Homo sapiens: one gene and its partner. The protein of the gene in region 1 interacts with the protein of each later gene in a pairwise test. Each region holds a gene or a part of one and is shown on either strand. Other genes may lie near its edges.

Region 1 (3,751 bases):
ATATGGAGTGAATCTTGTCCCCTGCTTTTCAATGTCCTAGGGTAACAGTTTACTCTGGCATCTGCTTGGGACCTGTAGAACCAAGACTACAACTTTCTTTCCTGTGAGATTTTTTGAGGCTTCAGTAAAAAGGAGAAATAGTTTCCAATATTTCCAGATTCTGACCCACAACACATTTATAACAAAAAATCTAATCAGAAACACTCAGCGTTCAATTCTATCTCAGATAAACACACTTACCACAGAGCCAGATACTTAACAGGACCAAGAAAGCAGGGTCATCTCTGGCCCACTGGTCCTTCGTCTGTTTTCGATAATGAAAATTTCTGTAAACTCTCTGTGGGGATGTGAACAGGTAGAGCATCTGCCAGGCAGCAAATTCAAAGTCCATTTGCCGAAAGCGGAAAAGCCTTCTCAGATATTTGTAGCGTTTCGCTCCGGCTGTGTGTCTTGCCGCATCCCTGGAATTCAAGACTCCGTTCCCCTGCACTAAGGAATTCACTGAAGTACTCGGTAACATCTTCCTAGATGGAAGAAAAACATTTCTTTTACACGTATTCTGAAGAAACATTTGGCTACCGACACTCCTCTTCTGAGTTATTTGGCAGGGAGGTCACTTTCCATGTTCTTCCCAACCCTAGAGAAAGGCCAGGAGTCAAAAGCAAATGCAGTTAGTTCTGAGGCGGGTCTTGGGGCTTGGGAACCGCAGACTGCAACCTCAGGCAAGGGCAACAGCCCACCCTTCTGAATCACCTAATAACACTTATCCAGGGGCAGCTACCATTACAGAGACAGGGATGATGTGACTGCCCCATGACTCCGAGGATAGTGATAGAGCCAAGATTGGAAATCTGACTCGAAATTCCGTGCTCTTAACCACCAAGCTTTTAAGAAAATGCCTAAGAAAGCAGTTTCAGCCGGTTAGAACAGTGTTACTGAAGAGGTCAAATAAATGGCCTATTCACACAGATCCATCAGCGCACTGCCAGCAAGCTTCTCGGTCACTAGAATGAGATTAAAAAACCAAGAAAAACTCCGATCCCTAGTGTTTTACATCCGGAATAGTTCAGCAGAGGGAGCGGTAGCGTCGGAGTCCAATCCAACCGGTCCGAGCTCCGGGGAACGCCGGCCACTGCCCGGCTGCCCGTCTCCCCTCCACTTCGCAGGCCCCCCAGACGCCGGCAGGGTCTGGCCGAGCCCAGCTGCTCCCTCCCTGCCCGGGGCCGCGGGTACGGCTGCCAGATTTAGCAAATAAAAACACAGAATACCCAGCTCCATTTGGATTTCAGACAGGCCACGAATAAGGTTTTAGTATGCCTACATCCCACGCAACATTTCGGACATGCTTATACTAAATGCTCTTTCTTTATCTACGATGCAAATGTAACTGGGCGTCCTTTCATTTTAGCCGCAACTCTATCGCCGGCCGAGGGGCCGGACGCCGACATGGTCACTGCCAGGCCGCAGCGACGTCAGGCCGCAAGCTGTCGGGATTAAATGGCCCCCGGCGCGAGCCCGGGCCGCGGGAGGGCAGAGTGGTCCTCAGGCCTCACCTGGAGTCCTGCTACAGCCTCGACCCACGTCCGAACCAGCCCACCACCTCCTCCCAGCAGCCGACCCCAGCCGCCACCGGGCGGGCTTCCCTTCCCTCAACGGAGCCGGCCCTTGGGGCGCGCCGCGTCACGGGAACCGACTTCCGCCGCGGACGCGCCACCTCTCGGCCCCCGTAGTCCTCGGCCCTACCGCCGCGGCCCGCCGGAAGTTGTTGCCGCTGGCTTCCGGTCCCCTGAGACTGGGGCCTCGCTCGCTCCCGACCCGGTTGCAAGTGTTGCGGTGGGAGAAAGTCGCGTCCGCATCGGAGGGGAAGCGCCGTCATGCCTAAGTATTATGAGGACAAGCCGCAGGGCGGCGCGTGCGCGGGCCTGAAGGAGGACCTGGGCGCGTGTCTGCTGCAGTCGGACTGTGTGGTCCAGGTAGCGCGGCCGGGCGCTCCCGGTGGTGACGACCCCTGTCCCAGGCAGGCCTGGCTCGGCGGAGGGCAGCGGGTCGCCCGCGGCGGCGGTTGGAGTTAACCATCCCGGGCGTAGGTCACAGCTCGGGCTCACTGAACGTGCGCAGATCCACTGAGCTGTCGGAGCCCCAGTTCCCTGTGGGGTTAAATCGGAGATAACGATAAACGCACCCTGTCGGGTTTTTGTAAAGGTTAACCCATTTCAGTTCACGAAGCCTTTATTGAATGCTAGCACTCTACTAGGCTTTGGAGACATAAAGGAGAATAAGCCAGGTTTCTTGCCTGCCTAGAAATGATAATCTGTAGAATTAATGATTCCAGAGAGTTGCGTAAACCTGGTACACTGCCCTGGCCAGTAGTGTCTCCTGCCTGTTCAGTTGTGACAATGTGTGCTCAGTTTGACTTGTGTTGATGTGAATTTGTTTCTGAGTTACAGTTCTCTGCATTCTTGGATGTTAAGTTGTAAAAATAAGGCAACTCCATATTTTCACGATTTCGTATCTTGCTTCCCCTACACTCTTCCTTCACTCCCCGGCTACAGACACAGGTCTCCTCAGCACCCTCTTGGAATGCACTGAAACATGTAGTGAGGTTCACAGTGGACCTGAGTTCTGGATTAGAGCTCAAGTAAAGCACAAGTGCCTTTTCCAATTGCAGAGGCCCGACGAGAGGGCATTCAATTGTGTGCAATTGTCTTTGCATTGGGGGATGTAGTTTCAGAAAGTTGCTGTTATTTCAGAGAAAAGATTACCCCCAAATGGACATCCACTGTAAGACTGTACCAGTGTTTCTACCGAGTCACAATTTGTTTGGTTCACTGATTTTAGCAGTCAGCCATTCTCGCCTCCCAATGTCTAGTAAAACTTGAGTTATTATAAATTTAAGAGATTATCTCGCCCAACTTCCTTATATAAATGAGGAAACTGAAGTACCGTTGTTTTCAGGCTCCCCTGTCCAGGGCTGTGTCCCTTCTGCCCCTTACTCACTGGTGCTGCCGTTCAGCCAGCTCCTGGTAAATGCCTCTTAAGTGGCAGGCATGGTACCTGACACTGGTGATAACGAAGATGAATCAGTAACAGTCACTACCCATGTAAGCTTGGTGTCATGGGAGAAATAGACATCTAAGGGTCTAAATTCCTGCCATAAGACTGTAAGCATTTATTAAACATGTGTTTAATGACTAGATCTTGAGGAGAAAAATGCGTTAGCCCAAGGGAGAGCGTCTGATTTTGCTTCAGAATTTGGAATCTTCTGAGATGACATTTGAGCTGAGTCTTAAAAGTTGAGTAGTAGTTTATCAAGTAAAGGAGTGGGAACTGTTGTGGTTGTGGGGAAAATCTGAAAGAACAGCAAGTGCAGAGGCAGGGAGATGTGGGAGGGCGCAGAGGAGCTAGTGTCCTGCCATAGGGGAATGCGACAGAAGGCCTGAGGGGAAGGTTGCAGCCAGGTGTGAAGGCCTGTATGTGTGTCAGAGTGAGGAGACTGGATTTTATCCAGACGTTCAGCATCGGAAGGCCATGTTGATGAGTAGTCAAGGGAAGAAAGTACACTGAGTAGGACTGAGGAAAGAAACTCCAAGTGGAGGACAATAGCAGCAGCACAGAGAATTCCAAGCTGGCTTTCTGCAGCGGTTGATACAGCAAACATGTACGGAGCGCCAGGCTCCAGTTCAGGGAACAAATACTGATGAATGGAACATGGTCTCTCCAGTATAGAAAGCGGAGCTGTTTGGCTAGAATG
Region 2 (3,751 bases), on another chromosome or scaffold:
TGAAAGGCTTAACTTCCTCCTTCTAACTTGGTAACAAATAACCTCAAGTATTTAAATTAGCAATGTTTTAAGGCCATTTAAAACATGCTTTAGAGACAGATCAGAGTTTAATTTAGGTAAATATTTGGAGACTTAAAATATATTACATGGTGATTTTTCATTGTTCATTAATTTATTTTCCAAAGGGCTTTAAAAAACTAAATGGTTAGGCTTCTTGGTGGATATACTTCAGGTGAGACATGTAGGCATACTATGTCATGAAGCAAGGGGATGTTGTCAATATTGAGTGAGGTTCAGTATTCTAGATCTTGTAATAGATAAGAACATCAGGTCCAGTTTAAAATGAGCATCTATCCCACAGCCATCCCAGGATAGAACACATCTTACCTGTGGCTTCCACCATTCCTTCTAGGATGACCACAATTTCCAGTTCCTCTTTGGGCAGCTGGGCTTTGGAGATCTCCCAGAAAGGACTCTGTTGGTTAATTTCATGGCTAATGATCAGCGGTGACACCAGAAACAGACGGTCATCCCCCGTGTAATACCCTACGTTGATATCCGTCTGGTTCAACGGGATGAACTCCCCCTCCGAGGTCTGTTTGGATTTGATCAACTTGGCTCTGATGGAAGCCTCCACAATGTGGGAATTCCTAAGGTCCCCTACCCGGAACATCAGGCACAGTTTCCCATCCCGCATGGAGATCACTGCATGGGTGGAAAAGACCAGGGTCTCTGCCCTCTTCTTGGGTTGAGAGATTTTTACAAACATGCATCCCACCATGAATGCATTGACAATGGACCCCAACACAGATTGGATTAAGAGAAGAATAATTCCCTCTGGGCATTTATCTGTGATGACCCGGTAGCCATAACCAATGGTGGTTTCTGTCTCTATTGAGAATAAAAAAGCAGAGACGAACCCGTTGAGGTTGGTAACACAAGGAGTCCAGGAGGGGTCCTCTATGTGGTCCATGTCTCCCCGTATGTATGCGATCAACCACCAGATCATTCCAAAAAAGAGCCAGGTCACTGTGTAAACCATGACAAAAATCAATAGGTTGAATCTCCACTTCAGGTCCACTAATGTGGTGAAGATATCGGTCAGGTAGCGATAGGTCTCCCTCACGTTGCCGTGATGAACATTGCACTTTCCGTCTTTCCTCACGTACCTCTGGATTTTCCTTTTGGTCCGATCTCGGCTGATGTGTCTTGGCAGGTCATCCCTGGCCTGCTTAGGCAACTTTGGCTGGTGAATGGCCACTGGGCTTTCGACGTCCTGATCCATGGAGTCGCCCTCCAGGACGTTAGCTGGTGGTTTGGAGAAAAGAAAAGAAACACTGAATGAAAGGCTGGCTCTTTGAGGACAATGGAACGGCACACTTTGTATGGGCTGGTGAAACCAAATACCATTTGTGTAGCTATAAACAAAGTAGACAAAGCCATTTTTATTCCACACCATCTGGATAGGCCTCTAGTTGACTTGGACTTCTGTGCTCTTCGATCTAGTTTGTGTAAGTACTTCACCATCCTGCCCACCAGGACGGAGCTTATTGCTGCAAAATTGTGTCCCTGCCAGCAGGTTCTACTGAGTCAGCTCTCACAGAGGGATGCCTCCCAACTCTGAGATGCTGTGGCATGGGAGAGGCAGTAAGCTCTGATGAAGGAGTCCTCTTTAGATTCAGACAGGCTTAGCTCTACTACTTAGCAACTCTTAGTGGGCTCTTGGCCATGATATCTGTTATGGACTGTATTGTGTCCTCACCAAATCCATATGGGGCTTGAGCCCCAACCCCTAAGGTGACAGTATTGGGAGATAAGGCCTTTAAGGAGATAGTTAAAGGTTATATGAGGCCATAGGGTTGGGGCTCCAATCTAATAGGACTGGTATCCTTATGCGAAGAGGGAGAGACACCAGGGGTGCACACAAACAGAGGAAAAGCCATATGAGACACAGGGAGAAGGTGGCCATCTGCAAACCAAGGAGAGAGGGCTCCCAGAAACTAACCCTGCCAACACCTTGATCTTGAACTCCAGCCTCCAGAACGATGAGAAAATAAATGTCCATTGTTTAAGCCACCCATTCTGTGATATTTTATTATGGCAGCCTGAACTGACTTACAACACACTATCCAAATTCGTGAGCCTCAGTTTCCTCATTTACAAAATTGATCATGATACCCAACTCACAGTGTTGTTATAAGGTTAAACAAAACCATGTATGTGATCTGTGCCTGCATGTAACAGACTTGCAATCAATATTTTTTTGTAATAAATTGTTCCCTTGTCACTTTCCTTATGTTTAGGGCAAGAGTCTTGAACAAGCTCTTTGAACTATTGGCCAAATTTCAGGGTTTAAAAAACATTTCTGGTTTTTGTCGGTAAGTATGCATGCATTGTACTTTAATGGTTGATTCAATGCCAAGGTAAGTAAAAAAGGGTGGGGAAATGTTCTCTCTGTCTGTGTGCTTACATATTTGATTTGGTTTCTGCCTCCTCAACATTCAACATCTGTAATTTTAGCTTGTGGTTATTTTTTTTCTTTTAAAAAAGTTTAAATTTTTTTTTTTTTTTTTAGAGATAGGGTCTCGCTCTGCCACCCAGGCTAGAGTATAGTGGCACCATCATAGCTCTCTGCAGCCTTGATCTCCTGGGTTCAAGTGATCCTCCCACCTCAGCCTCCTGAGTAGGCACAGGAGGCTCAGGCTTATGTCACTATGCCTGGCCAATTATTTTATTTTCATGGAGACGGGGGTCTCACTATGTTGCTCAGACTGGTCTTGAACTCCTGGTCTCAAGCCATCCTCACACCTTGGCCTCCCAAAATGCTGGGATTACAAGCATGAGGCACCATGTCTAGTTATGTTGTTTCTTATGGCTTTCATGATTAATGCACTGGTTCACTCATTAGTTAATAATGCATTAGGAAAGCTCTCCTAAAACTTGAGTGCAGGGGAATTTTGGAACCGATTTCTGCTGTTTAAAAGCATATAATCCACTTATGAAATTATTTATTTGGCCAATAATACTAAAGTCTTCTACAAGTTTGGTAAGAAATTTCTTCCTCCAGACTTAAATTCTGTGTCGTTTGACTCTGCCATGTGTTTCCTTTATGGACACTCTGTTTTTAATCTTGGTTAAAGGACAAATGTCATCTCTCCACAAACCATCATTTATCTGAATAAGAACATAGCCGGAGATGGGATTTGAGTGCCCCCAACCTAACTTATGAGTTAACCTTGCTCATGGATGATCAGTTGCCTTAAAAATCAATCTCCTGGATCTGTTTTTGTGTTTCAGCCTCAGGAAGAGACAGCATCTGTTCTGCAGAGCCTACTCTCTAGTCTGACAGCTTTGACTTTTAGATGATCTCCCTCAGTAGTCCTTCATTGAAAATAAGAAAAGTCATTCATTTGTAAGAAAATTTGCTTTTTTCCCTTTCTTAGAACAAATACCAGGATAGGTGTTGATGGGGGGCTGTTGAGGTTGGGAGGGCTGGAGGTGGGGTGGGTGTATGGATGGAGGCAGAGGCCATGTCCTTCTCACTGGAGTTAGGGTGGGTGTGTGGAGGGAGGCAGGGGCCATGTCCTTCTCACTGGAGATGGGGTGGGTGTATGGATGGAGGCAAAGGCCATGTCCTTCTCACTGGAGGTGGGTTGGGATGTGTGGAGGGAGGCAGAGGCCATGGCTTTCTCACTGCCGCTACCCCCTACATGGCAGGGTGTTCTTGTCCTTGAATGGTCAACAACTCTGA

The links. Proteins that work in one complex are often made in the same cells at the same time.
Region 2: the proteins of UNC50 (region 1) and KCNJ6 interact in binary tests that used the Homo sapiens proteins (3 or more experiments, as listed by UniProt).

Annotation. Positions count from the first base shown.
Region 1 is NC_000002.12:98,606,529-98,610,279, reverse strand, and holds the start of UNC50 (protein unc-50 homolog), read right to left. Parts: upstream 1,692-3,751; 5' UTR 1,554-1,691; intron 638-1,553; exon of another isoform or gene 572-637; coding exon of another isoform or gene 521-571; coding exon 241-520; intron 1-240. Other genes in the region: COA5 (cytochrome c oxidase assembly factor 5), read left to right, coding at 1,875-1,973. UniProt on the Homo sapiens protein: Involved in the cell surface expression of neuronal nicotinic receptors. Binds RNA.
Region 2 is NC_000021.9:37,713,824-37,717,574, forward strand, and holds part of KCNJ6 (G protein-activated inward rectifier potassium channel 2), read right to left. Parts: intron 3,413-3,751; exon of another isoform or gene 3,298-3,412; intron 2,379-3,297; exon of another isoform or gene 1,309-2,378; coding exon 388-1,308; intron 1-387. UniProt on the Homo sapiens protein: Inward rectifier potassium channels are characterized by a greater tendency to allow potassium to flow into the cell rather than out of it.